Linked DNA regions of Homo sapiens: regions 2, 3, 4, 5, 6 and 7 are each reported to be linked to region 1. Evidence: microRNA targets listed by miRTarBase, many of them from high-throughput screens and not tested one by one. Region 1 holds a microRNA gene; each other region holds the end of a gene's coding sequence.

Region 1 (4,000 bases):
GGCCCGGGGTCCATGCAGGGTCGTCTAGCCGGGGGCAGAGCTTCCGGTACCATCTACGTCCCAGCAGGAAGACAGCAGTGTCACGATGGTAAGGGCAGTTGTTGGGGGGAAGGTTCTCTCTCTCACAATGTCCCCACCCACCCTCCAAAGCCCTGGGGCTTTCTGGTGACCCCAGCCTACAGCCGCCATCCCCTCCTCTGGGATGCTTTAGCCAGGACCCCCATGGAATCCTCTAGAAGAATATTTCAAAAGCAAAGACACTAAGTCAGTCCCACTGGACTAGTCAGAAGCCAGGACACAAAAGCATACCCTGACCCAGGGCAGGGCTCCTTCCCAAGCTCCATTTCATCCAGGGTAACTGACCAGAGGAGGGAGCAGATCTGCCCTCCCCACCCCTCTAGAGAAACACCAGTCCTTCTGGGTGCTCTCTTGCAGGCTGTTCACCAGAGTTGAGCCCAGGGTGAGACTAGCAAGGCACTCAGGACACTTGCTCTCAGGGTCTTGCAGGTGCAAAGCTGGCACCCTGCTGCTCACCCTGGCTGCCCTTTTTCTCATCTCTGCCACCCTATGAGGCTCAAAGGAAGGGGCACCTTCTCAAGGAAGCCTTCTTGATTTATTTCCCGAGGCAGAGTCAGAACTCTACCTATGGACACTAGCTGCACTGGCTGGTCTACGTGCCTGGCTCCTCCTAGGAAAAAGAACTACTGGAAAGGAGGAGCTATGCTCCAGTGTGTACACCCGGTGGCTGCCACGGGCCATTGCACAGCAGGTGCTCACAACACTGTGCTGAATGAGTCCAGTGAGCCGGTCCAGAGTGAGCAAATGAGAATAGGACTGGAAGACAGTGTGACTGAATGGCAGCAGGTCAATAAGTATACATGTGCATGATGCCTCTGTGCCAGAACCCAGACCAGGGCTGTCCTGAGAATGGAGCAAGGGTAGACTCTAGATACACTGCTGGGGGTGGGCAGGGCTCACCCAGGGTGTCCAGGAAGGTGCTGGGGCCGCTTGGGCAGGAGCTCTGTGGTCCCCTTCAGCTTCTGCAAGCAGGCGCGGGCCATGACATCTTGTTGAAACTCCTCCTCCTCACTGCAGGGGCCGAGGTCTGTGAGGGTGGGGGAAGACAATCAGGAGCAGGAGAAGGAACTCTCAATAAGATCTGCTCCCACCCGCTCATCTCCAGAAGGCTGGAGCAATCCTTTCGAAGGACCCCCTCAATCACAGGACCTTCCCAGAGACAACCCCTACCCTACCCTACCTCCCACCCATGCTCCCCACCTTCCTGATCCATGGGATCACCAGGGGCCCCAGCCCCCTCGATGGGCAACTTGCTGGCTGTGGCTGGTTCCTTCTTCACCTTCTTAGCTTTCTTCTGCTTAAATTCTTGCAGGTCCCACTCCAGGTCCCAGAGCCAGGGGTCTTCTTTGTACCTACAGAGCCAGTCCACTAGGGCAGGGCTAAGGCTAAGCCGAAGGCTAGGCCGCCCACCTGCCAGTCCCCTGCCTAGATCCTGCCCACCCAAGGCCTGGCTACCTCTCTCCTGAGAGCAGCTGGCAGGCATCATTGGCCAGATCCATCAACGACTTCTTCATCTCCCGCTGGAGCTCCTCATAAGTGCCCTGTGCCTCTGCCAGGTAACGCTCCCAGTTCTGGTTGACAGGCAGGTAGGAGACACCCATCTCCAGCATGCCGGCCAGAGTCACTGGGTGGGGACACCTTGGAGGCAAACACCAGGAGCTGCCATAAATGACCACAGGAGGCAAGACTGGCCCAATCCCTGAGCTGGTTTAGCAAGCCTCAACCCAGCCACTGACATGGCACAGCTCAAAAGTCAGACGGCATTAAATCCCAGCTCTACTGTTACTCATCCCTGGGTAAGCAACCCCATCTCTCGGAGCCTCAGTTCTTTCATCTATAAAATGGGAACAATATCATCCCATCCTCAGGGGTAATGTGGGAAATATAGATGGCAAAAGTGAAAATGGCTGCCACACGTGGAGTAATGACTCTGTGCCAGGCACTGTGCTAATAATCCCATACATGAAAAACATCATGCCTGAACCTCACAACTTGGGTGGTAAAATACAGCTGACATTTAAACAACACATGTCTGGATCGTGCAAGTTCACTTACACATTTATTTTCTTCAGCCTTAGCCACCCGAGACAGCAAGCCCAACCCCCGCCCTCAGCCTACTCAACGTGAAGGATAGATATCTTTATGATGATCCACTTCCACCTAATGAATAGTAAACATATTTTCTCCTCATGATTTTCTTAATACATTTTCTTTTATCTAGCTTACTTTAAGAATACAGTATATAATACGTATAACATAAAAAATATGTATTATGTTATCAGTAAAGCTTCTAGCCAACAGCAAGCTATTAGTAGTTAAGCTCTGAGGGAGTCAAAAGTTACACCCAAATTTTCCTCCCTTCTTTTTTCTTTCCATATCTTTGGTACAAATATACCTGAATTTTCAGCATACAAGGGTCACTTCATAAGACAGACTCATTAATAAACATAACCACGCTGTATGTGAAGCCCTTGGCTAAGGATCTAGTTAGAGAAGGTGCACAGTAAACCAGGACCGTGCACATGACACACAAGCACAACTCCATGGCCCTCCCCTTCAGGGCCTCTGTCAAATCCAGAGTCCAGGGCCCAGATGGACACCACTGAACAGAAGGGCTCCATTCTTTCAGCCTAGAAAAGCTAAGGTCCCCAACCTGAGATAGAACCAGCGCCACCTGATTACAGTGGGCCCGGGTACCAGGAACACACTGACCCCCAGAGATTCCCACATGGGCTCCCCCTCACCTCTCCAAGAAGAGCGGTAGCTGCTGCTGGAAAACCTCATGGGTGGCCCACACGTCCTGGGCACAGTACTGCATCAGGTCCTGGCACAAGGTGACAGGAAGGCGCAAGGTGGGCAGCCATCCCATTACCACCACCAGCTCTCAGGGTCAGGCCTGGCAGCTGCATCTCCCCAAGTGCAGCTAGGGGTGTGCCACAGCCCATGTCCCCAGAGCCCCCTCCAGCACCATACCTGGAAGTTCTCACGAATGTCCTTCATGGTGCCCTTCACAAACAGTTCTCGAGGCTCCTTCTCTAAGGGAGGCCCCCCTACATAAAGTCTGTGCACCTCTGCCAGACTGTTGACACTGCTGATGTCCAGCCAGTCCCAGGATGAGATCTGGGGAACCAGAGCAAGGGACATGGCAGATCAGCCTGGCCTCGGGCCAGACGGGCTGGTGAGAGGGGGTCCCAAGCACTATGCTCCTGCCCACCGGCAGTGTGCTCTCACCGCTGGGCCTCTTCTGGCTTTCCTCTGGGACTTCTGGCCTTGCTTTGTGGGGGGCTGGACCTTGTGTTTGCCCTGCTTGGCTGCTATCCACAGACTGCGCTGGAAGCTGCTTAGCCCTGAGATGGCCATGTGCATGCTCATGGTGTCCAGGAAACGCATGCGGGAACCCTGAGGAGGAGGAGGAGAAAAGGGAAGGGAAGGAGGGAGGCTGCAACTGTGGGGCCAGCCCACCACTGCTTGGTGGTGTGGACCTCCAGCCCCACCTCAGCTCCTCAAACAGCCTCCCCTCCCAGCACACAGCCTTCAACACCAAATACAGAATCCTCATGCTTGTTCATGCTTGCCCCATCACCTGTAAGGGGCCTGCCTTCCCAAATCCTAGCCACCCTTTAAGATGCAGGCCTGGCTCAATCCCAATGTGCAAGTCCTTCTCAGCTTCCAACAATAGCTCTGAGCAACGTAGATACAGAGTGGCCAAAATAAAGCCTTCAGGGCTATCTGGTCTGGCCCCAACCCTGCCACTCAAAAGCTCTGTGGCCCTGAGCATGTCAACAAGGCTGTCTGAGCCTCAGCACCCTCAGCTATAGGGTAAGGTTGCTCTCCCCTGCCTGGCCTATCTTCTAGGGCTGTTGTGAAGATCCAGTGAAAAAACACTTTTCATAAAATTAAGAATTGCCACTACTATACACCA
Region 2 (4,077 bases), not on the chromosome of region 1:
GCACCTGAAGTGAGGCATTTCCAGCAAGCAACTCCACAGACCCGAGAAAGGAAGGGCTCTAGTGGAAGAGCTAGCATCTCACCACCCCAGGTCCCCTGGCCTGGTCCAGGGCAGCCAGCTGCATGTGACCATTCTGTTGCCAGCTCCCCACACATCCCTCCTGTCACCCAGGCTCCAAGACATTCGACCAACTAGACTGAAAATGCAGGCATCCAGCTTTGGGAGACCCTGTGTGTGCCACACCAGGGCTAAGCTCTCCCAGTGCCCTAGCAAGGTCTTTTTTTTTTTTTCTCTCCTTATTCTACTCTACAGTCTTTTGACAGTATTCCCAAACGAGGTTGACACAGCTCCAGTCCACACCAGCATACCAGGCTTCCTTCCCAGGGCAGTTTAGAGGAAGCTCCTTCTGGGCAAGGTCAGGCGGTCCTCCTTCCCTCTCTCCTTCCCCTTTGTCCCAGCCTCAACTGACTCTGGCTGTGGGAGGTGTGGAGGGTCCTTAGGCTTCCCTCCCCAACCTGGCCTCCACCAACACCCCTAACAGGAGGCCCGTGGAAGGCTCAGCCTCTCCTCCGCATCCCTCCTCCTTCCTGCCTATCGGAGGGAGCCAGGGTCCCCTAGGCTGACCCTGAATCCTCTTCCTCCCTTCATGGGAGGGGGGCAGGAATCCAGAGGAGGATGAAGCCAGCGGGACCACATGGCTTGGTGGCTTGGACAAACAAGCTCAGGGAGGAAATGAGGAGGCGGCGGCTGCAGAGGAATGCAACCCTGTTGGGCACAGACCATGCAATCTGGGGCTGGCCCTGGGGCCAGCTGGGTCCTGTCCTCCACCTGCTCAACCGTGCTTCCACCAACCAGAGGAAACCCATTTACTAGTTTTTCTAATAAATCAATAATGCTCCATGTTTCTCTCAGTTTCTTATTTAACTAGCCTCCTCTCCCTTTGAACTGAGCCTAAGAGGGCTGGCACCATGGAGACAGAGGGACAGCCAGATTCTCTAGCTTGTCCCTGGGAGCCTTATGGGACGACTGCAAGCACCCGGTTCCTGGGCTTCATCACAAACTCCAAGAAAAGCTTGCTCATTCATGCATTTGATCAACTTGAAGGCCTACTGTAGGGCAAAATCATTTCCAAGCAGTGATCAGTCCAGGCCCCTCCCCACAGAGCTCAGGACAGATCTCAGCACTCACTGGACCGCAGAATCATCAGAATCTCTAAGCCTGGGATTCACCTCCAGAGGGCAGTTTCTGTTGGTCTAGGGAGATGGAATGTAAGCACTGCGTTTCCAGAAGGCTCCCCAGATAATTCCAATGGGCAGCCAGTGAGAACCACCGACCTGGTGCAAGGTTCCCAGGCATACCTAGATGGCCGTGTAAGGACTGCCTGGGGAAGGGGTTAACTACAACTTCCTGGGCCCCACCCTCTGAAGAGCCCCAGTCGGGTTCTTCAAGGGAAGATCAGAGGCTAGTGACAACCTCTCTTGAGCAGAAGCAGCGCAGGGCAGAGATAGCCCCTGGTCTGGCAGCTGCCCTGAATCTTCTGTGGTCATTCCACAGTCACTGGCTCCTGCCAGGCCAGTCTCAAGATATGATGCTGAGTAACCACAAGGGCACTGGACAGTGTGAGGGTCAGGGAGGCGGAGGTTGCAGTGAGCCAAGATTGCACCACTGCGCTCCAGCCTGGGCGACAGAGCAAGACTCCGTTTCAAGTGGGGGATAAAAAAGAATCTGGGTCCCTCTGATCTTCCCTTGACCTTGTTAGACTTAGCAGACCCATCTTCAGGTTGGGTCAGAAGGCCCACAGGGCCCTGACCCAGCAGCCCTGCTGAACACTTGTCAGGCAGCTCTACCACCCAGGCCCTGAAGCCTCTACCTCCCAGGCCCCAGCTAGAAAAAAAATTAAGCAAAATGAGTCTGGACCTCTGTGGAGAAAGGGCAGAAAACCCAACTGAAATAGGGAGGCATTCCTAACTCTTCTGAATCAAAGATACTTCTGAGAATGTGATAAAAAGGGAGGAATCATCCCAGAAAAATGCACTTGTACTCCTCATCCAATGTTGCAGACACCTTTAGGACATTTCTAGTCTCCGAGTTTAGAATCCTTACCTTCAGCCGCATGCAGTGGCTCACCCCTGTAATCCCAGCACTTTGGGAGGCCGAGGTGGGTGGATCACCTGAGGTCAGAAGTTCGAGACCAGCCTGGTCAACACGGCGAAACCCCGTCTCTACTAAAAATACAAAAAATTAGCTGGGTGTGGTGGCTCATGCCTGTAGTCCCAGCGACCTGGGAGGCTGAGACAACGAGAATTGCTTGAACCTGGGAGGCGGAGGTTGCAGTAAGCCAAGATCACGCCATTGCACTCCAGCCTGGGTGACAGAATAAGACTCTGTCTCAAAAAAAAAAAAAAAAAAAATCCTTGTCTTCTAGGATGTTTCCTGGGGACCGGAGAGAAACGCAAAAGGCACCAGATACTGGGAGCATCTGCTTATGAGAAAAACAGTCTATCCACCTCACCACCTCCCTTTTTCTTGGTCCAACTCTGGCCCTTGGGGAAAAGAGCAAAAGGCTGGCATGCGGGACCCCCTACCCTAGACAGGACAGCAGGCTGCTGCTAGACAGAGAAGCCCATGGGAGTCTAGGCAGCAGAAAGAAAAAGCCCGCCCTCACATCCTCCTGCCCCACCTCCCCCACCAGTACCCGGGTGCCTTATGTTTCATAAGCCCAAGTGACAATTGAGTGTGGAAGGAACAACCTCCATGTCTCCATCTCCCTAAGACATCCCTGGCCCATGAATAACCTTCCCTACCCCAGCCAAGCCTAGGAAGGAGTTCACACATAGTGGGTTGGTCAGCAGTGGTTATTGCACCATTGGCAAATAATGAAATGTGTGTACATCAGCGACAACCACAGGGTCAGCACAACAACCCTCAAAAGTACCTGAACTGAATCCACTTCATTCTTGACAGGAGGGGAATAAACAGGGGCCACACACTCACGCACACGCACATCATACCACAGAATGGAAAGCAATAAATTATTGGCTTCATTCCTGCCTGGACCCTAAGAAAAGGCACCGTTACAGAACAAAGCCTCTCCAGGCCACTGCCTGAGTCTCCTGGGGATGGGCTCCTCCATCTGGCTGTGGCCATGGCCAGCCAACGCTGGAGGCCTGAGCAGAGCTTCCTCTCTCTGGGAAGAAGTGAGCTTAAATATTTGGCTTCTTACCAGAGAACAACTATTTACAAGGGAAGCAGCCACACCGGCCTCACAGGTGAGTGGGAAATTGTCTCGAGCCCCAGTGGATGGCACAGGCAGGAGACCCCTGCACACGGGAGCATCCTTCCTGAAGGGCGGAGGGGATGGACTTTCCGCCCACCTGAGGGCCCTGGGCAGGGGCTCCATGAGCCCAGGCTTGAGGGGAAGGATGCCCAGGTTCTTCCCCAACCTCCAACATGACTCCTCCCTCCCCCAGGAGTCAGCATCAACCGACAGAGTTCAAGGCCTGGAACTTCTCTCTAAGGTTTCTCACTCTGCCCTGCTGGCTCGGGTCTGCCGGGTCCCTGGAACCCTCTTCCTTCGGCTGGCACTCTGCAGACTGCTGGAAGTCCTGAACCTGCCCCAGCAGGGCCACCGGTGAGCTTGGTCCCTGGCCACTGCTCTCCTCCAGCCCTGCAGTGGGGCTGGGAAGGGGTCCCTTCTCCATGACAATCACCCGCCGGTTGTCCTCCAGGGTGAGGTCTGCAGTGACATACAGGGTCTCGCCTCCATCCGGCTTGCTCTGGGGCAGAGGCCCAGGGGATTGGGCAGCCTCTCCGCCTCCCCGGCCCCTCTTGGTGCTCAGGCTGCGGCAGCGGCCCACCCTGCCCGACAGAGGTGGCTCTACCATGTTCTCCGGCACCGAGTGGCTCCTGTTGACGGGTGGGCCGCGGGGCCGGCCGCCCCCTGCTCGGCGTGCCTCATCGCGGGAGGCATACTTGGAGCAGAGCTCACGGACGTCGGGCCAGCTGAAGGTCTCTGTGGGGCTGAGGGGGCTCCGGGCGGAGGGCCGGCCCCCAGGCGAGGTGGTCCTCTGGCTGACA
Region 3 (4,077 bases), not on the chromosome of region 1:
AAAGCAAAAGCAGGAGCTTATGGTCACATGCCTCCAGCTGCAGGCAGTGGGGCCTCTGGTACTGAGAGGGAATGCCACCCGAATATGCCCCAGCTGTCTCCACCCAGGAAAAGGAAAGCCAGGTACACTTCTCATCACAGTAAGACTAGCCTAACAGGGGAAAACAGATTTACATGTTTCGTTCATTAGCATATTAGGGAAGGGGAAACCTTTTGGGCTCTGGCCCCGTGGTTGGGAAACCCTTCCTAAGAGCATGGAGCCACACTCTGGCCTTGATACAGTAGATGGGACTTAACACACTCTGATGCTCAAGGCCTTGCAGCATCTGATACCAGAAGGCACCTCTAAAGTTTTGTTTTCAACATTATTTCATCTATTCCCAGATCTAGTCCAGTGATGTCAGCTGCACAGGTAGCATTTAACTACTGGGAAAACAAAAGTGCTACAACAACAGTGAGTCCATGGTGGAGTGAGGATAACTCCTGGGATTTGGAACCAGTTTGCTGGTATCAAGGATCACACAAGAGGCTATAAACCTCCAACCCTGAACCAAGTCAAACCTAAGCCTGGGGATTTCCCTCGGATGAAATCACCAGAACTTCTTTCCTATTTTCAGTCTCTTCCTTCAGTGAGCTGAGGATTCTTTTAGCTAGCTGGATTTCAGTCAAACAATGTTTTTGTGGTCATTACTTGTACTGTTTTTCTAGTGCATCTTTTCCCTTTTGTTTGCAAAAGTCAATCTCACCCCATGTAGATGTTAACTGATATCCACACATTCGACCTGGTGTGGATAACATCTCTGGTAGTGCCTCGGTGGTCAGGAAGCATTACCAGGAAGGACTCATCTTCAAGGACCGTTTCTTTACTGCCTGCTGAATATGGATCATAGGCTCAGATGCCCAAAGCACCTGGGGTACAGGTCTACATGGCAACCCAATGCCACATAGGAAAAGAAAACAGTCCATTTTTAAGCCGTTCTTACCGACTTTTTTTTTTTTTTTTTTTGAGACGGAGTCTTGCTTTGTCACCAGGCTGGAGTGCAGTGGCTCGATCTCGGCTCACTGCAACCTCCACCTCCCGGGTTCAAGAGATTCTCCTGCCTCAGCCTCCTGAGTAGCTGGGGCTACAGGCACAAGCCACCGTGCCCAGCTAATTTTTGTATTTTTAGTAGAGATGGGGTTTCACCATGTTAGCCAGGATGGTCTCGATCTCTTGACCTCGTGATCTGCCCACCTCAGCTTCCCAAAGTGTTATTGACTTTTAAAGCTTTTTTGTTCTTCTCATTTAAAACATTTTACCTCCCCTCCTTAACTTCCCATTCTATTTCACCATCTCTTCAAAATTGTCTCCCAGAAAAACTGAAAATTCACCTGCTGGGTATGCAGAAAATTATGCAGATGTGAAATCAGTGTAGAGACAACTTTGGAGTTTATGTCTGAGTATGCTGCCAATATAATTTTCATATTCAGACTTTTTAGAGACAGGGTTTCACTCTGTCATGCAGGCTGGGGTGCAGTGGTGTGATTATAGCTCATGGAAGCCTCAAACTCCTGGACTCAAGGGATCCTCCTGCCTCAGACTCCCAAAGTGCTGGGATTACAGGCATGTGCCATCACATCCGGCTAATTTTTTTTTTTGTAGAGATGAATCTTACTATGTTGTCCAGGCTGGTCTCAAACTACTGGCCTCAACCGAGTCTCCTGCTTTGGCCTTCCAAAGTGCTGGGAATACAGGCATGAGCCATCATGCCTGGCCCATATCCAAATATTTTATGTTTGGTCAAAAATAGAAAATTCTATTATAAAAAATAAAGTTACTATGGCAACATTTTCCCAACATAGTTCCCAGTATATAAACTTATTTTTCTTAAAATGATAACAAGGTAGCTCAATAACAATACAATACCAGTGATAACCAAATATAATTGAATTTTTCTAAAACTACATTCTTACATTCCCTATCCACTCAACTCTTGTAATGGTTTTCCACTTTTAAAAACTATCAAAATAGGATTTTTAAAAATTTATCAAGACCACATAATGCAGTTGAACACTCAAAGTGTTCCATGCAACTGTGGTTGAACTATTCAGATTCCAGACTTCTACCAAGAACAATCCAAAGAGCAAACTCCCAAAATGACCTCCTGCGTGGTACAAAACAAGCCAGGCTGAAATTTCGGGAAACCTAAGGGATCTTATCCAGAACCATATTTTGGAAAACTGTGATCAATCAATTTTTTGACAGTGAAAGAGAGTAACTTTCCAGAGTATGTGTTAATTATATCTCTATCAAGCTTTAAAAAGTTAACAGATACTTAACTCTTGTTCATAAAAAATGAGGCCCTCAAGCTAATTAAGATGACTGGGAAAGGTGCAGAGGAGTAATTAATTTTGGAGGCGCTCTGGGAACAGGTACACAGGGTACAGTAGTCATCATCATTAAAACAACAGGCACTCAGCTCTACTGAAAAGGCTGATGACAGCAGCCCCTCCCAAGCGGATCTGTAAAGTGCCACTGAATCCATGTTCATTCACCTACTCCAGGTTGTGGTCAATTGTAAGTAATCCTGAAATTCTCATTTCTGCTCATGCTGACAAACTTATCATCTAGAAGTACTGGTTATTCAATTAATTTTTAAAATATTCGGATATACCCTGCAAATAAATATAAAACATCTCTGTACCCAAACAGTCCCACCACTATAAAAGGTTACATATAAATTAAATAAACTCAGATTTCTTAACCATTTTCTCAGCTTAAGTTTGCCCTCACCCTAAATGAAGTCCAATTTATATCCAAAATATAATTAAATATTCCAAAGGTATATCGAACCTAAGATATTGAAAAAATGTAAACAAAATTTATCTAGCTTACATTTATGAACCATATTTTTAGGTTTTTAATTCATCCTGTACTGACCCTCTGAAAAAAAAAACTAATCAAGTTATGTTTAGACTGAAAGCTGATTTGGATTTTAAAGTGGTTCCTTGGAGACAACTCTCAATGACTAAAACCAGTGTTATTGAATCAAGTGGTTTACTGTATCATTCAACTTAAAAGACCAAAATATTTCCTTTCTCTCTTCCAATAAAGCTCTTTCTGGATGAGCCCCCAGATCCAGCTGTCCTAGGTAAACGTGCTGAACTGGCTGGAGATCCTGCAGTAATGCTTGGCACAGAACCAAGGCTGGGTATCAAGCAACCTCATGACTTCCACTGCAACTGTTTAACATCCCCAATTCCTGGTTTTTCAGTCCAGTTGGCTGAAAAGGATGGAAACTGGAGTGTAAAGTAGAGAAGCAGAAAGAGAAACATAGATTGATCCTCAAAAGAAAATCAAAGAATCCATTCATCACAGTGTCATCCTCATACTCCACAGTCAGACTGCTTCTCCTGAAGCTGCCTTGTTAGTATCTGATATGAAGACAGAAAAGCCACTCCTATGTGGAAAAGGATTTGCCAGAGGTTCCTCAGCCCGTGCAGGTACATGTTGCCCAGGCAAATAAAGAGCAGCATAAGCACCACCTTCATAGTCCTGGCTGGACTGTAGAACAGGTACAAATAACACTGAAATGAGACCAGAAGAGGAATTCCAATCAGAGATAAAATGGCCACTAGATCATATGCAAAATTCACCTCCCACAGCTTCCATGAAGAGTGTCATTTCTCTCACATTAGCTGATTAAACTGAATTCATTACAGTAAAGCGTGGACCCACTGGTTAGGCTGCTAATTATTGGACGAAAGTGAGGATTTGGAAGATTAAAGGAAAGTGAAATAGATGTCACAGGAAGAATCAGTGCATGGCACATCTGAAAGAAGTTAAAGAAATAGACAGAAATGACCAGGCTGTTGGCAGTAGAGAAAGAAGAGCTGCACATAAGCTGCAGACAGCCAGGCTGCAGACAGGGGACCCTAACGTGACTGACTGGCCCCCCAGTGAAGTTTTTCTTCAGGGAGCCAGGACAGGCAAGCAAGCTGGTGAGAGAAAGCCATGCTTTTACTATTTTGGTTTCTCCTGAGCCACGACTACATTGAGCACCACTCTTCCCTTGGGCACCCTCCTTATCATGTCTTC
Region 4 (4,077 bases), not on the chromosome of region 1:
GAGAGATCAACTTATGCTCAAGGTCACCGAGTTTAGCCCTGTGGTAGAGTTGGGATGTCACAACCTAGAGCACAGAATCTTGTCCATGGCTGTGGATTTAGTAAGTGAAGTTCAGGGAATTTGTGCCTGAAGGTCTCTATTTTTATGTAAGATAGAAGGCAAGGACATGTTAAGAGTGAAGGAAAAAAAGAGGGTAACAAGTTTCAGAGTATAAGTTTTACATAGTAAGAATGGAGAACCGACTAGAGAAAATAAGGGTAATGGGCAGTGCTGAGGTCAGTTAAAACCAATTTTTACTAATACGGATTTATACATTTGGTGATCTTTCTCCAGAAATAACTGGTGAGGGTAGGAGGGCTTGGATACATCTAGGGCTGGGAATTTTCCAGGAAGTCGTTTGGGTTAACAATCATGATACTGAATTGATAGATCAGGAAGCCTAGATAGGACTTACAGAGGTGGAAACAGACTACGCCCTAACACAGAGCAGGTATAAAGGAGGAGGAGTTGGTTAGAAGTGAATACTTTTATTGAGTGATTTTAGAAGTTGTTTTCGGATATTCCAAGTATTTAGGATGTGGCTGTGGTGGAAACAAGTAATGGAACCAAAGCCCTGTGTGTAAGTAGTCACTGAAGCTAACCAGGTAGCTGAAATTTATTTCCCCCAAATTTACTGAAAGAATGTGACCTTTGTGCTCTCAAACTGTGGTTCAGGCACTCCAGAATTTTTTTCTGTACCTTCAATTCTCTCAGATTTAAAAAATTATACTAGAGAAGAGGACTTTTGCCTATGAATACAAACAACATTGCAATCTGCATCTGCAAACATTCTTTTCAATAGACGGTTAGGTCATGGATACAAGTAAACACTTGGATATAAGGCAAACATTTAAAAGTGCATTTCAGGTATTAAGTCATGAATGATATGGAAAAGTTGCCACTAAACTTTCCACTGAATAGTGTTTCACAGCACAAAAATAATCTATTTTCCTGATACTTTTTTAGTATGGATACCAAGACAGCATGACATCAGTTGTCTAATTTTTTTCCAATTTGATTTAAAAAACCCACATGTTCAGGCTTAAAAGATAGCATTATGTTTAATGGGTGCTAGGAAACCAGGCCACATGGACCAACAGACCTAAATTTACTCTAACCCTGAATTTTGTTAGCACCCAATAAATGAATTAATTGAAATCTGGATTTCTCTATACGGAGATGAAGAAAGTCTTTTAGTGTAGTTATTTTAAAACAAGTTGCTCCTATTTCCTTATCAGAAACAAGACCATATCAACAACCCAACATTTAAATAATGAACTGAAAATACTTTTAAAAACCATAAAACTCATCTCTATCCCATTCTTAAGTAAAAATCAGTCTTCACTTTCTACTTAGTTATAAGCAATCCCACAGACATTTGAAAATCAGTGGGCAAACTAAAATTGTTGAATAAAGCCAAACTTTTTCAAACCAAGTATTTGTTAAATGTCATATGTATTGTCTACTATAAAGTGATTCAATATTTTACTATAGAGGATAGCATCTATTTTTCAAAAATGTGAGAAATTAAAAAAATAACAAGGCAACAACTTTGGGGTCTGATACATGAAATAAATATACTGCAAGATAGAGTCTATCAACCAGAAATCACCTGTTCTACTTGTTAAATTTCTCTAACACATTCTAAATTTTTTTTTTTTTTTTTTTTGAGATGGAGTTTTGCTCTTGTTGCCCAGGCTGGAGTGCAATGGGGTGATCTTGGCTCACTGCAACCTCCGCTTCCTGGGTTCAAGTGATTCTCCTGCCTCAGCCTCCTGAGTAGCTGGGATTACAGGCATGCACCACCACGCCCAGCTAATTTTGTATTTTTAGTAGAGATGGGGTTTCTCCATGTTGGTCAGGCTGGTCTCAAACTCCTGACTTCAGGTGATCCAGCCACCTCGGCCTCCCAAAGTGCTGGGATTATAGGTGTGAGCCACCGCACATGGCAACACGTTCTACATTTCAAAGTGACATAAGAATAATTTTTAAAAATTCCAACACTCCAAGGCTGGGCGTGGTGGCTCACGCCTGTAATCCCAGCACTTTGGGAGGCCAAGGTGGGTGGATCACGAGGTCAGGAGATCGAGACGATCCTGGCTAACACCGTGAAACCCCAACTCTACTAAAAATACAAAAAATTAGCCAGGAGTAGTGGCACATGACTGTAGTCCCAACTACTTGGGAGGCTGAGGCAGGAGAATCGCTTGAACCTGGGAGGCAGAGGTTGCAGTTAGCTGAGATCGCGCCACTGCACTCCAGCCTGGGCGACAGAATGAGACTCCGTCTCAAAAAAAAAAAAAAAAAAAAAAAATCCAACACTCCAAATACATCCTTTAAGTATGTAGATGTATAATAGCTCAGCTCACAAACAGGTGTGACTAAAGCCTTTGAACTTGTTACTTATAAACATTAAGAATTTGGACCCCATTATCCAAAGATCCATTTACTAGCTCATAATGCAATTTGTGTTAATCAGCTATACAAATCAACCACCTAATAGCAGTCAGATGATTCTAATCTCACACCAACAGAAACAGCAATAAAATTAGAAAGTAATACTTTTTAGTAATTAATCAATAAAATAGCACTGGGATAAAATGAAGAGAATTTCTTGTTTCAGCTTCTTATCAGTAAGCCTGTTCCTCATTTGTAGATAATGAGGATAAAGGTATCACAGCCAAATATGGGAAACTGCTCTTTATTTAGACCTTTGGGACAAAATTAACTTTGGTCACATATTACTTAAAAAAAAATCCAGTTTTACATATTTCTAAATAGACAGAACTAAATGATCAGAGAATTTCTTCTGTAAAAATTGGCCAAATTTTATCAAAAATCTAACATACGATACAATCCAAATTATAAAAAGACTACTTGGGATCATAATATTCCAAATGTATGACAGTTATAACTCCATCTTAACAAGTGTGAAAAGTACTTGCTCTCATGTTGCTTTGGTCCAAAAGAGTAGAGCTAACTCAGTAACAGGAAACTAAGTACCCAATCTTTTGCCAAAATTAATTTAGATTGTGACTGGCAGCAGAAATATCCATAATGAACAGCTCTACTATAACAAAGAATAATTAAAGAATACTTTTCGTGAACATATCACAGTATCAAATACATTTTTATAAGAGAAAAATATGAAGGAAATGATAAAATAGCTATCACAAACAAAAAGAAGCATTTCCCCCATAAGGTGAATTAGAGGGTTGATGATGCTAATATGAAAGGAAGTTGAGTACTGTATTTATTTCTTATTTTATACAACTCTTACTCTTTACAAAAATGGTTATAGTCATGCCCATAAAAGTGTAACCCATGGCATTTGAAAGCAAACACTCTTTGTAATTATTTAAAAGGGCCTTTTTAAAAATTATAATACAAAGGTCTGTGCTCTATAAGCAGTCCTCCACTGTGCATTGTAACAATAAGGCTTACTTTTAATACAAAGACTAAGCGTTTGGGAGTTATGAACCACTGGATTTAACAAACATCATTTTATAATTGCTTTTTGCATCTTTTTTGTTTTTGGGATCCTCCACTTCATCAGGGTGCTCAGCAGCTTGGAGTTCTTCAGCAGATTCTTCTTTCTCTGACTCTGAATCGCTTTCAGAATCATCTGGACTTTCAGGATCAGGTGAATCATCATCGTCATCATCATCATCTCCAGCCACATCACCTTCTCCATCATGGTCTTCTACCTAAAACATCAATCAACAGGCTCTTTTAAAAATAAACATTAGCCCATACAAAATCTGAGAAAGACCGTAAGTTCTGTCGGTCTTAGAAACACTCTACTTTGTAGCCATTAGAACAACAGCTTTAAGACTTGAGTAGAATTTTAAGAAAGAGCTCTGTCTGGCTGGGCCCAGTGGCTCATACCTGTGGCTGGGATTCCAGCTACTCAAGAGGCTGAGAGGCAGGGGGATTGCTTGAGGCCCAAAGTTTGAGACCAGCCTGGGCAACATAGTGAGACCCTGTCTCTTAAAAAAAAAAAAAAAAAAAAAAAAAAAAAAAAAAAAAAGGGAGAGA
Region 5 (4,077 bases), not on the chromosome of region 1:
TACATGTCCTTCCACTTTGAGCACTATCAGGACAACATCAGCCGTGTCTGCGAGATCCTCAGGCGCCTAACAGGCCGAGCCCAGGCCTGGGCAGCCCCCTACCTTGATGGGGACCTGCCCCTGCCTGACGATTACGAGCTCTTCTGCCAGGATCTCAAGGAAGTTGTTCAAGACCCGAACAGTTTTGCTGAGTACCATGCTGTGGTTACCTGTCCCCTGCCCCTGGCCTCCAGCCAGCTGCCAGTGGCCCCTCAGCTGCCTGTGGTGAGGCAATACTTAGCTAGGTTCTTAGAGGGCCTGGCACTCGACATGGGTACTGCCCCCAGGTCTTTACCAGCCGCCATGGCCACCCCTGCTGTGTCTGGGTCCAACTCTGTATCTAGAAGTGCTCTGTTCGAGCAGCAGCTGACCAAGGAGAGCACCCCTGGGCCCAAGGAGCCCCCAGTCCTGCCCAGTTCTACATGTAGCTCCAAGCCTGGTCCTGTGGAACCAGCCTCTTCCCAGCCAGAGGAGGCAGCCCCCACACCTGTCCCTAGACTGTCGGAGTCAGCTAATCCTCCTGCCCAGAGACCAGACCCAGCTCATCCAGGAGGTCCAAAACCCCAGAAAACAGAGGAGGAGGTTTTGGAGACAGAGGGAGACCAGGAGGTGTCCTTAGGTACCCCACAGGAGGTGGTGGAGGCCCCGGAGACCCCAGGAGAGCCACCACTTTCTCCTGGGTTCTGAACACAGCCCAGGTGGGAACAATGCTGCCCCTCATGATGAAGTGGCCTGTGTGGCTTGAGCGCCCCATAGTCCCCAGTCAGAGCAGAGTGGTGTCCCCAGATGACTTCAGACCCCATAGCTGGGCAAGATGCGCTTGTTTTGGACTCTGCGCTGAGCAGAACCAGCTCCCCCAACTCCAGCAGAGCTTGACCTCCGCCCTGTGCCCTTTCCCTGCTGCTGGCTCTCTGCTGCATCCCTGCCCGTCTTCTGGGAGTGCCGTCTCACCCAGGCCTGCTCCCACGAGGGGGTCGTTTTGTAGATCAACTCTCAGCAGATAGTTGCATCATCTTTGTCACCTCCACCCCCATAAAACACCCCCCTTGGTGTCTTCCACACTGGCTGGGACTGAACTGGGTCTGCCACGTCTGCCCTGTTGGGACCTCGTTCCTGTATGGGGTTTCTGTGTCTGTCCCCCTAGCCCCACCCTCTCTGCTCCCTGTGACTTCTGTCCCAGCTGGAATGTGAGGAAGGCTGCCTGGAGGAAGTGGCCACTTTGATTCTGGGGGATGAGTGGGATAGCATCTTGGCAAAGAATGATGTTTCCTGTGGGATTACCAGCAGTTCTGGGCAGCTGGAAGGTTTGGATGCAGGAAGGTGGGATGCAAGCCCCTTGCCAGGCTCAGCTGCAGGCATTCGCCCTTTGTGTGTTAACACTGTAGCTCTAATCGTGCCTGGTGTTCTGAAGCAGGCTCCTCTTCCCTGCTGCTGTGCTGCCATCCCCTGCTCACTCCGCACTCGCATGCATTGCGGATTCAGCACTTAAGCCCTAGTGTGTAAATGACTTGGATCTCCCTCCTGGCAGACTGTGACCCTCAGCACAGGGGCTCTGTCTTAGTCAGCTCTGTGGCCTGGTACACAATTGGTGCTCATTAAACACGTGTTGGATTACTGGCTGAGGTGGTGCAGTGGCTGCCTACCAGCAAGTCTTTGTTTCCCATTCTGTCAGGAGCAGAGGCCTGGCCATGAGCATTCCAGGTCAGCATTGCAGCTGTGGTTTCTGGCAGGGGCTTTGAGGGTCCAAGGGTCTGATCAAAGAAGCTGGGTGGGGCTGAGTAGGGGGTGGGTGGCTCTGCAGGTAGAGAACTGACTTCCGAGAGCTGTAGGTGAAGTGAGGACCAGGCAGCAGTCCAGAGCTGTGAGGCCCCAGGCCCAGAGGAATGGAATGAAGAAAGACCTGTTCCACACAAGGAGGGGTTTTCTAGTGGAAGCTGAGCTTGGAAGCTCCTGGAGCCAAGTTTACCACAGGATAGGCAGGTACAGCCGCCCAGTGTGTGCAGTGTGTGCCCACTCTGGTGCTTGGACAAGAAGTTCAAGTCCCTTTCAGGTTTACAATTGTGAAAACAACAAAACAACACCTTCCTGGAAAGTAGGAAGAAAAAGCAGAAATGTGAATTGGAAATACAGCCAACTATTTTAGGAAAAACTAATTAGCAAGCATCTGATTAAACTTATTCAGAAACTGGCCGGGAGCAGTGTCTCACACCTGTAATCCCAGCACTCTGGGAGGCCAAGGTGGGTGGATCACCTGAGGTCAGGAGTTCAAGACCAGCCTGACCAGCATGGAGAAATCCATCTCTCCTAAAAATACAAAATTAGCCAAGTGTGGTGGTGCATGCCTGTAATCTCAGCTACTTGGGAGGCTGAGGCAGAAGAATTGCTTGAACCCAGGAGGCAGAGGGTGTGGTGAGCCGAGATCACGCCATTGCACTCCAGCCTGGACAACAAGAGTGAAACTCCATCCCAAAAAAAAAAAAACAACAAAAAACAAAAACCTTATTTAGAAAAATATAAATTGTTGGGATTATTTTATGGTAACTATCACTAGAAAAGGCTCTGGGTTCAGATGGTTTTATGTGTGAGTTATTTCAGGGCACAGATACCTTGTAGGTAAAACAACTGGAAACCTTGGAAATAGGTGGGAAGCTATTTTTAGAAAGCAGGTATAGCCCTGGTAGCAAAGCAAGTGAGCTGGCAGAAGAAACCCATTTTCAGTCTTGATTCTGGTCAGATGTGAGAAGTCCCTGGATGTCCTGGCCCAGCCCCATGCTTCTGTGCCAGGTCACAGCTGCCCTCCGTCCGATGACTCAGGCCCCATCCCCCCTTTTGTGGGTTGGGTCAGACTGCTCCCTGATGCCTACCTCCAGTGCACTGTGGCCTGGCTCACCTGTGGGTCTGGCAGTAGAACCCAGAGTTGCTCTCTAGGATGGACAGCCTAGTCACCCAGCTGACCTTTACCCTGTCCCACAGGCTTCTGGACAGGCCACCTTCCCCATCTCCCTTTAGTGGACCTGAAGTGGATACTCCAGCCTGGGATTGCTGCCTTCTCTTTTGAACCCTGTCCTATTGGGGCTTTGGGGCTTTTGTGCCCTTGGGACCCAGGCAGCTCCTGGGGGTGTGTGAGTTATGGTCTGCCGTGTGTCTGAGGGCCAGTCATGCAGCATCCACCTAGGCAGGCTTGAGAGTCCTTGGGAGAGTCCAGGTGACCTGGTTTTTAATTAAAACGCGTCCTGTTTATTGTGGTTGGGCTCTGCCCAGAAAGGAAGGTAGGGCCTTGAAGTGGTGATGTCCAGGTTTCCTGCACAGGTAGGGTGGAGGCAACGATGGACTCTGGCATGGCCTTCCAGACAGGCAGTGCACACAGCTCCTTTCAGAGTGGCTTTGTTGCCAGCTGCTGCAGCACCTGCTTTCAGACAGATGATGACCAAGCTGCTTTCCTGCTGGGGGAAGGAGGCATTCCCCCTGGGTTGTTTTTCTCTTCTGGCCCCCACACACTGGCAGACCCGAAGGCAGGGTGCTCAGGAGCTGCAGAGCCTGGCAGGGTTTGCTGGACATGCTCAGGGACGGGCCATGGTGCTGGCTCTGCTTTCTAATCATGGTGTCAGTCCTTCACTTCCCTTGGAAATACCCAGAGATTTTATTTCCTGAAGATAGGACATGATGGGTGCTGTGAGATGGTATTTAAAGTACCTGTCTGCAAGGAAAACTTTAAAATAGGAAGTACTAAGGATAAGGTCCTATGGGATATTGGAATATTTTATAAAGCCACAATAGTTAAAGCACTTAGATGTGGACAGATGAGCAGAGAATAGAGGACTTTGAAACGGGCCAAATAAATATGGAAATTTAGTACAGGCTAGAGGTGTTTCCAATTAACGAGTAAAATGGATTATTCAGTAAAAGCAGTTGGCCCTCTGGAAAATAGTAAAGCCATGTATGTGCCTCACTCTTTATGCCAGTACATATTCCAGATTAAAGATTTCAATGTTACAATTATGAAAGTACTAGAGGAAAATATGGGTGAATTTTTTTTTT
Region 6 (4,077 bases), not on the chromosome of region 1:
GAGGCAAGGCCAACCGAGCACACCCAATAAAACAGCGGCCATTCCCCTATGAACATAAAAATACTTGGAGTGCTCAAAATTGTAAAAATGGCAGTTGTGTTCTGGACCTCTCCAAGTGTCTTTTCATTCAGGGAAAACTGTTGTTTGCCGAGCCCAAGGATGCGGGCTTTCCATTTAGCCAGGATATCAATAGCCATTTGGCCAGCCTCTCAATGGCTAGAAACACGAGCCCCACTCCAGACCCCACTGTTAGAGAGGCTTTGTGTGCCCCGGATAACTTAAATGCGAGTATTGAAAGTCAGGGCCAGATTAAGATGTACATCAATGAAGTGTGTCGGGAGACTGTGTCACGTTGCTGCAACTCATTTCTGCAGCAGGCCGGATTAAATTTGTTAATAAGCATGACAGTTATTAATAACATGCTTGCCAAGTCCGCTTCAGACTTGAAGTTTCCTTTGATATCAGAGGGAAGTGGATGTGCTAAGGTTCAGGTTTTGAAACCGCTGATGGGTTTGTCTGAAAAGCCAGTCTTGGCGGGGGAGTTAGTCGGTGCCCAGATGCTCTTCTCATTCATGTCCCTCTTTATCAGAAATGGAAACAGAGAGATTCTCCTGGAAACCCCTGCCCCATAAACGGCCCTCTCGAACACAATGGGACGGAATCCACCCACAACGCGCTTGGTTTGCAGATGTCAAAGAATCTGCAGAGGGTGCTACTGAAGATCCAGCCTTAGCCAATCACCACCTCATTGGGTGAAAGTTCCAGGGCTCAATCCAGGACCACACTCTTATTGGCCAGGCAGGGGCTCCCACAGAGCTTTGAGTAACTTCTTGGTTGTGCAGTCTGCAGGCAATGTTGGCATTGTAAATTCCTCCCTTGCAGCCTCCTTCATGTGGTGAGGGGATCACTTCAGCTGCCTGCTGTGGACAAAGAACATCAAATTACAGCATCACGAGTGCTATTGTTGCCTGTGGTGGTCTCCCTGTCCAAGCGGGACCGCTTTGCAGAGACCAGAGGCATATCGCGGCTTGAGCTGAAAATGCATTTGTTGCAGCTTAGGTTGAATTATTTTTCGTTTGCTCTTTCTTCTACACGCGCCTGATGGATAGTGAACCTATTCATCAAAAAAGTGCACTGCTCTTCTGTCTATTGTACCGACTTAACCTCTTCCACCCAAGTCCGCATCTGTGTGTATCATCAATAAAGTTGTGTGCTTTGATTGGCAGAAAAGAGTCATGGTCCTTGTCCTTGAGTTTACAGTCTGCACGGAGAGAAGGACAAAAAAAAAAGCACGGTAAACGCCAGCTGACTGGAACGTCTGCTCCGTGACAAATGCAGGCTTATCGGTGCTCACAGGAGGCAGGGATAGAGAGGGGCTGCAGTGCTCAGAATAAACTTCAAGAAGGGGCTGGAGGCGGGGGTGGGGGAAGGGGAGGGGCACAGCGGGGGAGTTCGTGGAATTAGGATGGAATGTTGAGAGGACTGAAAGAGACAACACCCGTGGAGCAGGCAGCACCGTGCCCCGGCACAGAGAAATCCCTTCTTAATGTCTTTTCCTTGACTGCCAGCCTGGAGAGAAAGGTCAGTAACCCTGGCCTTTTCGATTGTCGGCGCATCCCGACGTGGGGATGGGGACCGGGGTGGAACGGGTGGGGGCGCTCTACCACGCATCGGGGCGCATTTATTGCACAATGATGGCGATAAAGGTTGCCGCTTGCCCAGCACCTACCCTGTGTAGTTCTATCCCTCCTGCGAAGCCAGGGGGAAATCTGCTTCCAGCCCTCCTTCTCTCTTCCTTGGGATCCCCAGCGCTACTTCCTGGCAGAGTGAGAGGGTTGGCCGCTGCTCCCTTTGGAGCAACCTCCTTTCTTCCATATCCCCACTACCTGTGGTGGGACCCAGGAAGGGGACAGTGGAGCCCTCCATCAACTACCTGCGGGGGTGATAGGGCAGATGCTGAGGGCACTTGGCACGACCGTGGCCACTCCATCCATCCGGAGACACCTCCACACTCTCCATCTGAGGTGCCTGCACCTTGCCAGGAAAGGAAGAGCCCGTGGGCGCAGAAGCACTCCATGGGTCAGGGCAGCTCGTTCTGCCCCGCCCCCACCTCCAACATTACCAGATCCCGCCCAGCAGGTTTAGCCCCTGAATCAGCAAAGCCAGGTTCCCTGCATGTTTGTGATGTGTCAAGAAGTGGTCCCCTTCCCTAAAGCCATGGCAAACCCAGTAAACACATCTGCTTCCCCTTGGGCAAGGCTGCTGCCGTGCCCGGTGCCCTCTCGGTCTCCCAGGGCTGCTGCTGTGGGTCACTGTGTCCTGGGCAGCTGCGATCTCTGTGGTGCTGGGCATTCTGCTTGTTCTGTTCCACACAGAACAAAGCTTTCTTTTCTTGTCTTATTCTCCCTTCCCCCCGCAGCTTGCCTTCCAGGTGGGTTACAACTTTCCTGCTTGTACCATCTGCCCCACAGTCCATGCTGGCCAGACGGCCTGAGTGCCTGCCGGGTCCCCTGACCAACTCTGGGAAACCCTCCCACCTGGAATGGGGACCAGACCTCTTCCCAGGCCCTGGTGCCTGGGATGGCCAACAAGTGACTTGCAGTTGTTGTGACACCACATCCCCTGTCAAGGCTCACACTGCTGGGGCTTCCTTGGCTGGCTCTGGGAGCCCTGTCCCGGTTCCTAAGGGTTCCTAAGAGCTGTCAGAAGGACCACCCTTTCTCCCAAGCCAGCCGCAGTTTGGCTGGGCAATCTGATTTCAAAGGGGATTTCCCTGCAGACAGCTCCGCATGCACTTTTCCCAGTGGAGCCTGCTTCGCCAATGCTGTCTTTAGTGACACCTCATTGCTCAGTCTCTTTGAGCACAAAGGCATCCTCCTAGCCTGTGGTCCCGAATTAGCATGCACCTCCCTACTTCCCTGCACGCTACCAAGTTTCCCTTTACGTGCGCTTGTCCACCATCGCTGAGGCACTTGACACCGTGAGGCCGCAGCTGAGTCCTAACTCAGGGAGCGCCCCAGAGGCTTTCTGCCCATCTCCTGAGCAAACTCTGTCACAGAAAAGCCCATCAGCGTCCAAGTGTCTCCACGGCGTTGTCTTGGCCCAAGTCAAAACCCTCCTGTCCATTTGCTGGCACTGCCCTCCCGAAAGCACTCACGCACAGCCCTTCTGTCCTGCCCCTCATCCCCTGACTGGTTGCAGTGCCTGGGTACGAGCCCAGTTCCCGTGGATTCTGCCTCCCTGGGATGCGCGGGGGGAGTCGGGAGCATGCCTGCCTCCCAGGGCCTGATCAAGACACTGAGAGGTTCTCAGCACTGGCAAGAGCGCCGGTGCCCCCATTCCATATGTAACGCAAACATAAAAACAGCCCTGAGCCATCAATCACAATGCATACCTGCCTGCTGCAACCAAAAGACAGCCTTTCTGGGCTTCCCCGTGGCAAACATTGGAAAAGGTCATCAATCCTGAGCTTGCCACATTCTGTGAGAAGTGCTCTGCCTTGATGGTGCCGCCCCAGCCTGAGCCCGTCTCTTGTGTCAATCTGGAACTGCCGCCACAGGCTGTCTTCCACCTCCAGAAAGGGCCCTCAGTTTTGCTTCTCATCTATCTTATGAGCACGTTTCCATTTGGTGCCTGTAGGCACTGACTGACTTCCAGACCAACTTCAGGTGCCCTCCCCAGCCTGCTGCCTCTCCTAGGGATTTTGTGGTTTGCCACCCCCACCCCGCCCCCCTCCAGGTGAGTGCACACAAGGTTGCAGACAACCAGCTTCCCGGCAGGCACGTCCTGTCTCAGACACGGGACCCTCACCGGGGTGCTATGTGTCACTCTCAAAGCAGTATCCACCACGATCCCCTTACTTTTAAGTGCCACCCTGGACCAGCATAGCCCTCACCCAGTCCGTCCCTCTGACGATGCACCACTGGGCTAAGAGTTGGGCAGCTGTGGCAAGGGGTTGCTCTTGCCTCTCTTCTGAGGGACACTGGCTGCTCTATGATGCAGATGGGCACTGCACCAGAGTCCAGCAGAGTGCTGCAGAGGGCCGGCCCTTGCCCCGTCTGTTACAGACGCCAGATG
Region 7 (4,077 bases), not on the chromosome of region 1:
AGTTCAAGTCAGGAGGATCACTTGAGCCCAGGGGTTTGAAACCAGCCTGTGCAACATAGTGAGACCTCATCGCTACCAAAAATATTTAGCCAGGCATGGTGGCACGCACCTATAGTCCCAGTTACTCAGCTGAGGTGGGAGGATTGTTTGTGCCCAGGTCGAGCATGCAGTGAACCATGATTGTGCCAGTGTATTCCAGCTTGGGTGACAGAGTCAGACCGTCTCCAACAACAAAAAGCAATAGAATAAGGGTATTTTCTCCATATGCCCTCCCAACACCCCTGGGACAAGTTATAAAATACCCACTTGATCAGAGATTATTAAGCTGACCTAATTGGCTCTGAGGACTTCCACACTCACTGCAATCTTGGTGATTTTCCTGCAGAGCAACTGTTTGGCTGGCTGCAGCTTAAGTCTACTAGTAACTTGATTCCCTTTCCAAACTGTCAACACGGCGGTATCATCAGGCTCATTAAAATTGATGGCAGCACAATGCAACAGAGCTGGAGAAAACTGGAAGGTCATAGCATAGTGTACAACCACTTTGTGCTTCTGTCTCACCTTTCTCTGGCGATGGGGTAGGTAGTGTAGCCCAGATAGGAATGCCAGGAACAGGACGACTCAACTCTCCTGTATCTGTCCTGGAGTATGTACCAGGAGTCCTGGTGGTGGTGATACAGGAGCGGGTAGGGTGCAGTATCTTACACAAGGTGGTTTGTGCATTTCCACGCTGGCCACTATCATTCTTCAGGTGCTGGACTCCTGAAAGAGGAGTGAACTAAAGGTAAGAGCAGAGGTTGAAAACAGGGCGCCATGGACCGGGCACAGTGGCTCACACCTGTAATTCTGGCACTTTGGGAGGCCAAGGTGGGTGGATCACCTGAGGTCAGGAGAGTTCAAGACCAGCCTGACCAGTATGTTGAAACCTCGTCTCTACTAAAAATACAAAAATTAGCCAGGCGTGGTGGCGGGCGCCTGTAGTCCCAGCTACTCGGGAGGCTGAGACAGGAGAATTGCTTGAACCCAGGAGGCGGAGGTTGCAGTGAGCCAAGATTGTGCCACTACATGTCAGCCTGGGCGACAGCGAAGACTCCCATCTCAAAAAAAAAAAAAAAAGAAAAAAGAAAATAGCTTCAAAAAGATGGCATACCAATGTATCACACATGTAGGTGTGTATGTAGAACACACCTCCACCAACCTCGGAGCAGCTAGTCAGGACCAGTCATCTAGCCCATCATAGCTGCCACCCAGCTCAGACATTTTATAACTAAACTTACTGCAGAAGCTGGAAGCAAACCCTCTCAATGTTCTCCTTCAGATGGGAGACAACTCCAAAAATAGTCTGCTGTGTGACCTCATCACCAAACAGCTTGCTTCTCTGAGGACCATGTCAAAGGCATCTTCACTGGCCACATACAGGTGACATCAATATTTTACTATAATGCACAAAAAGGCTTTGACCTTCAAGGCCCCCTACAAGAGCCCAAATGACTTGTCCAGTATTATCATCTATTCATGTGTTGTCAAATCTACTTGTATCTAACTGTACTCAGCAGTTTCCTACCTTTAACCTCTGCTCACCAAGATACTCCCTTCTCTCTCTATTCCTATTTATAGACGCTATTCACACTTGCATGTGCAGCTGAAGTACTTTCTTTTCTAAGAAGCTTCCCTCCCTCCAGGTTGGGTGCCATCTCTCCAGCCTCTGAGCTACACTAAAACTTACCTAAACCTCTTGCTCCTAGGTCCTAGTAAATATTACTTGTGTTGATGTCTTTTCTTCCTGACTAGTTACTATGAGCACCAAGGGCTGGCTTGTCTTTTTAACCCAATTCCCTTCCCTTTTGCCCAGCCAATAAGCCTGGCATATCCTACAGGCTTGGTAGATACTGGGAAGTTCTGTAAACTTTAAAAAACAACTAAAAACAACAACAACAACAACAAACCGGGAAAAATAATCACTCAAAGTTACTGTGTTTGATATTTGACAAATAAGCAAAACCTTAAGGACACACTTAGGCTACAGAAGAAACCATTTTACAATGTATTGAAGGTTTGCCAAAATGGCCTTATGGTTGGGGAAAATGATGTGTAATACCTGTAAAATCAGAAATCAAATTTTCTTGGATTTTCTTTGCAAAAAAGAAACTCCATTTTAAAGTCTATGGGAGATTTTGATTTTAAAGTACAGTATTTGGGGGCTCCATAGAGACTGTGACTTGTTATAAATTCAAATTAGATTCCAATTTTACATATTGCATTTACATGCATCAAAAACCTCACTCATTCCAGCAGCTATAAGCTAAAATTTACTGAAACAATCCTTAAATCTTCCACTATAAAAAACTGTATTGATAATGCAGTCATACATCTATTTTCGCTAAACGGTTAATCACTGAATACAGACAGAATATCCTCCTTTCTCAAATCCCTTTAAGATCTGTAAGAATAGAGAAAATTTCCATCTTATGGAAAACCTGAGTTGACCTCAGGCAGTGCCTACCCACTGCTTGGTGAGGCTTTTCACATGTCATTCCCCCTTTTCACGCCTGTCTTGGCAACAAACCATACTGTGTTCACCCATCAGTCAAACCCTACATGCTTCAGACTAGTGGAAAGCCCATTTTTCTCTTCAGACCTTCCTGTCAGCAAGGGTCACAGAACATCAGTGCTACAAGTGACTTCAGAAGCCATTTGGTCACACCCCTTCAATTTTCCAGACTGGGTGGTGACCCAGAGTCAACACAAGGTCACACAGAAAATCAGTGGCAGAGCCAGAACTAGAATTCAGATCTCTTGGGATTCTGGTGAAGGCCTTTTGCTTTACACTATCTTCTTTCCCTTAATTCACATAATACTTGAACCTAACATTTTACTGGTTTTCAGGGCCCCAGAGTATTCCATTTTGAACGTTATTTTTTAAAGTATGCTTCATTTACTCCCAGTTATCAATGAGGATTTGATCTAAATGCTCAAAGATCCTACACACTTGTGCAATTCCCCTCAACAACTACTAATATAAAAATGCCAAATAAACCAGTTCTTTGGTGTTTTAACATGAGCTTACAATGAGAGTATAATTTAAAAATGTAAGCATACAACTAGGCTTTACCAAAGAGTAACTGTTTATTTCGCTTAAATTCTTAAAAATACTTTTTTGGCAGTTGTCACATAAAATGTCCTAATGTAAAAAAAATAATAATAATAATTAAAAAGCAAAGCATGAAAAAACAGACCCAAAATGTTAAGATTTTATTTACAAAGCTTTTTTGTTGTACAGAAAGTAAAAATGCTGTTACAATCTCAGTGTAACTGGTAGCCACAGACGGTTGACTCACCAATCACAGCTATCCACGCTACAGCAAGAATCTTACACAAAAACCTAACAACGCTTACAATTTTGTTGGGGTGAAGTCCACAAGCTTGGTGGTAGATTACCAAGAGGGACTACATGGAAGGAAGGCGGAATGTCACAGGAACTATTCTTTGGCTCTTTGGGTGGGTGGGTGTCCTGGGGTTTGTATCACAGCTACCTTTTTTTTTTTTTTAAACAGCTACAAAATCCATGAGCAGTCCAACCAATACTGAACAGTTCTGTTTCTGCAGGTCATCTGGGGTCTTAATCATCTTCTCCTTCATCATCTGTTTCTCTCTTCCTCTTTTCACCTTTCCCACCTTCTTCCTCCTCTGTACAGTAACAAAAATTGACTTTAGGACAGTGGAAAGGCATTTTGCTTAGATTATTGCCAATGGAGGCAACAACAACAAAGTTTTTGACAGTTAGGAGATAAAACAATGTAAACTTGATCAGATTAATATAGGTGACTAATAGCAAGTATAAGTGGTGACCACAGAACCAAGAAAAGCAAAATGCACAGCAGCACCTCAACTCACCCAGGAAAAGTTAATCCAGTTTCCTCGATTTTAAGGTGTTGTCTTCCAAATGTTTCTTTTTACAAATCTAGCAATTATTAAAGTGCTTATTATTAACCTGAGCTGGTCAGGCCCACTGGCTCATGCCTATAATCCCAGCACTTTGGGAGGCCAAGGCAGGCAGATCACCTGAGGTCAGGAGTT

What was found. The annotated mature microRNA hsa-miR-6766-5p reads CGGGUGGGAGCAGAUCUUAUUGAG and lies in region 1 at 1,149-1,172, opposite strand. An mRNA with a match to its seed (bases 2 to 7 or 8) in the 3' UTR can be bound and repressed. Matches are read on the target gene's strand: a 7mer-m8 pairs with bases 2 to 8, a 7mer-A1 pairs with bases 2 to 7 and ends in A, and an 8mer does both.
Region 2: miRTarBase lists PLEKHG3 as a target of hsa-miR-6766-5p. Seed matches in the 3' UTR shown: 7mer-A1 at 2,160-2,166.
Region 3: the mRNA of SEC22C is a reported target of hsa-miR-6766-5p. The part of its 3' UTR that is shown has no 7-base or 8-base seed match.
Region 4: the mRNA of C11orf58 is a reported target of hsa-miR-6766-5p. Seed matches in the 3' UTR shown: 7mer-A1 at 2,101-2,107.
Region 5: miRTarBase lists RTL10 as a target of hsa-miR-6766-5p. Seed matches in the 3' UTR shown: 7mer-m8 at 1,185-1,191.
Region 6: miRTarBase lists ARMCX6 as a target of hsa-miR-6766-5p. Seed matches in the 3' UTR shown: 7mer-A1 at 663-669 and 7mer-A1 at 1,170-1,176.
Region 7: the mRNA of ANP32B is a reported target of hsa-miR-6766-5p. Seed matches in the 3' UTR shown: 8mer at 3,500-3,507 and 8mer at 3,496-3,503.

Annotation. Positions count from the first base shown.
Region 1 is chr15:89,325,634-89,329,633 of GRCh38, forward strand. It overlaps MIR6766 (microRNA 6766), which reads right to left and starts at 1,177; the gene lies at 1,106-1,177. It overlaps POLG (DNA polymerase gamma, catalytic subunit), which reads right to left. Exons shown (of 23, transcript NM_002693.3): 4 at 3,310-3,477; 5 at 3,052-3,198; 6 at 2,823-2,902; 7 at 1,534-1,716; 8 at 1,279-1,430; 9 at 979-1,105; 10 at 1-53.
Region 2 is chr14:64,743,106-64,747,182 of GRCh38, reverse strand. It overlaps PLEKHG3 (pleckstrin homology and RhoGEF domain containing G3), which reads right to left. Exons shown (of 17, transcript NM_001308147.2): 17 at 1-4,077. The coding sequence ends at 3,480. SPTB (spectrin beta, erythrocytic) reads left to right here. Exons shown (of 36, transcript NM_001355436.2): 36 at 1-900. Among named protein-coding and RNA genes, the nearest start is that of MIR7855, 41 kb to the left of the region's middle.
Region 3 is chr3:42,549,883-42,553,959 of GRCh38, forward strand. SEC22C (SEC22 homolog C, vesicle trafficking protein) reads right to left here. Exons shown (of 7, transcript NM_032970.4): 7 at 1-3,566. The coding sequence ends at 3,366. Among named protein-coding and RNA genes, the nearest start is that of VIPR1-AS1, 19 kb to the left of the region's middle.
Region 4 is chr11:16,754,540-16,758,616 of GRCh38, reverse strand. C11orf58 (chromosome 11 open reading frame 58) reads right to left here. Exons shown (of 5, transcript NM_014267.6): 5 at 277-3,746. The coding sequence ends at 3,513. Among named protein-coding and RNA genes, the nearest start is that of C11orf58, 18 kb to the right of the region's middle.
Region 5 is chr22:19,847,816-19,851,892 of GRCh38, reverse strand. It overlaps RTL10 (retrotransposon Gag like 10), which reads left to right. Exons shown (of 3, transcript NM_024627.6): 3 at 1-4,077. The coding sequence ends at 726. The region is part of intron 2 of GNB1L (G protein subunit beta 1 like); the gene reads left to right. Among named protein-coding and RNA genes, the nearest start is that of GNB1L, 5.0 kb to the left of the region's middle.
Region 6 is chrX:101,612,273-101,616,349 of GRCh38, reverse strand. It overlaps ARMCX6 (armadillo repeat containing X-linked 6), which reads left to right. Exons shown (of 3, transcript NM_019007.4): 3 at 1-1,225. The coding sequence ends at 632. Among named protein-coding and RNA genes, the nearest start is that of ARMCX6, 3.7 kb to the left of the region's middle. RefSeq lists an enhancer at 2,179-2,741.
Region 7 is chr9:98,014,974-98,019,050 of GRCh38, reverse strand. It overlaps ANP32B (acidic nuclear phosphoprotein 32 family member B), which reads right to left. Exons shown (of 7, transcript NM_006401.3): 7 at 3,108-3,687. The coding sequence ends at 3,620. Among named protein-coding and RNA genes, the nearest start is that of ANP32B, 34 kb to the right of the region's middle.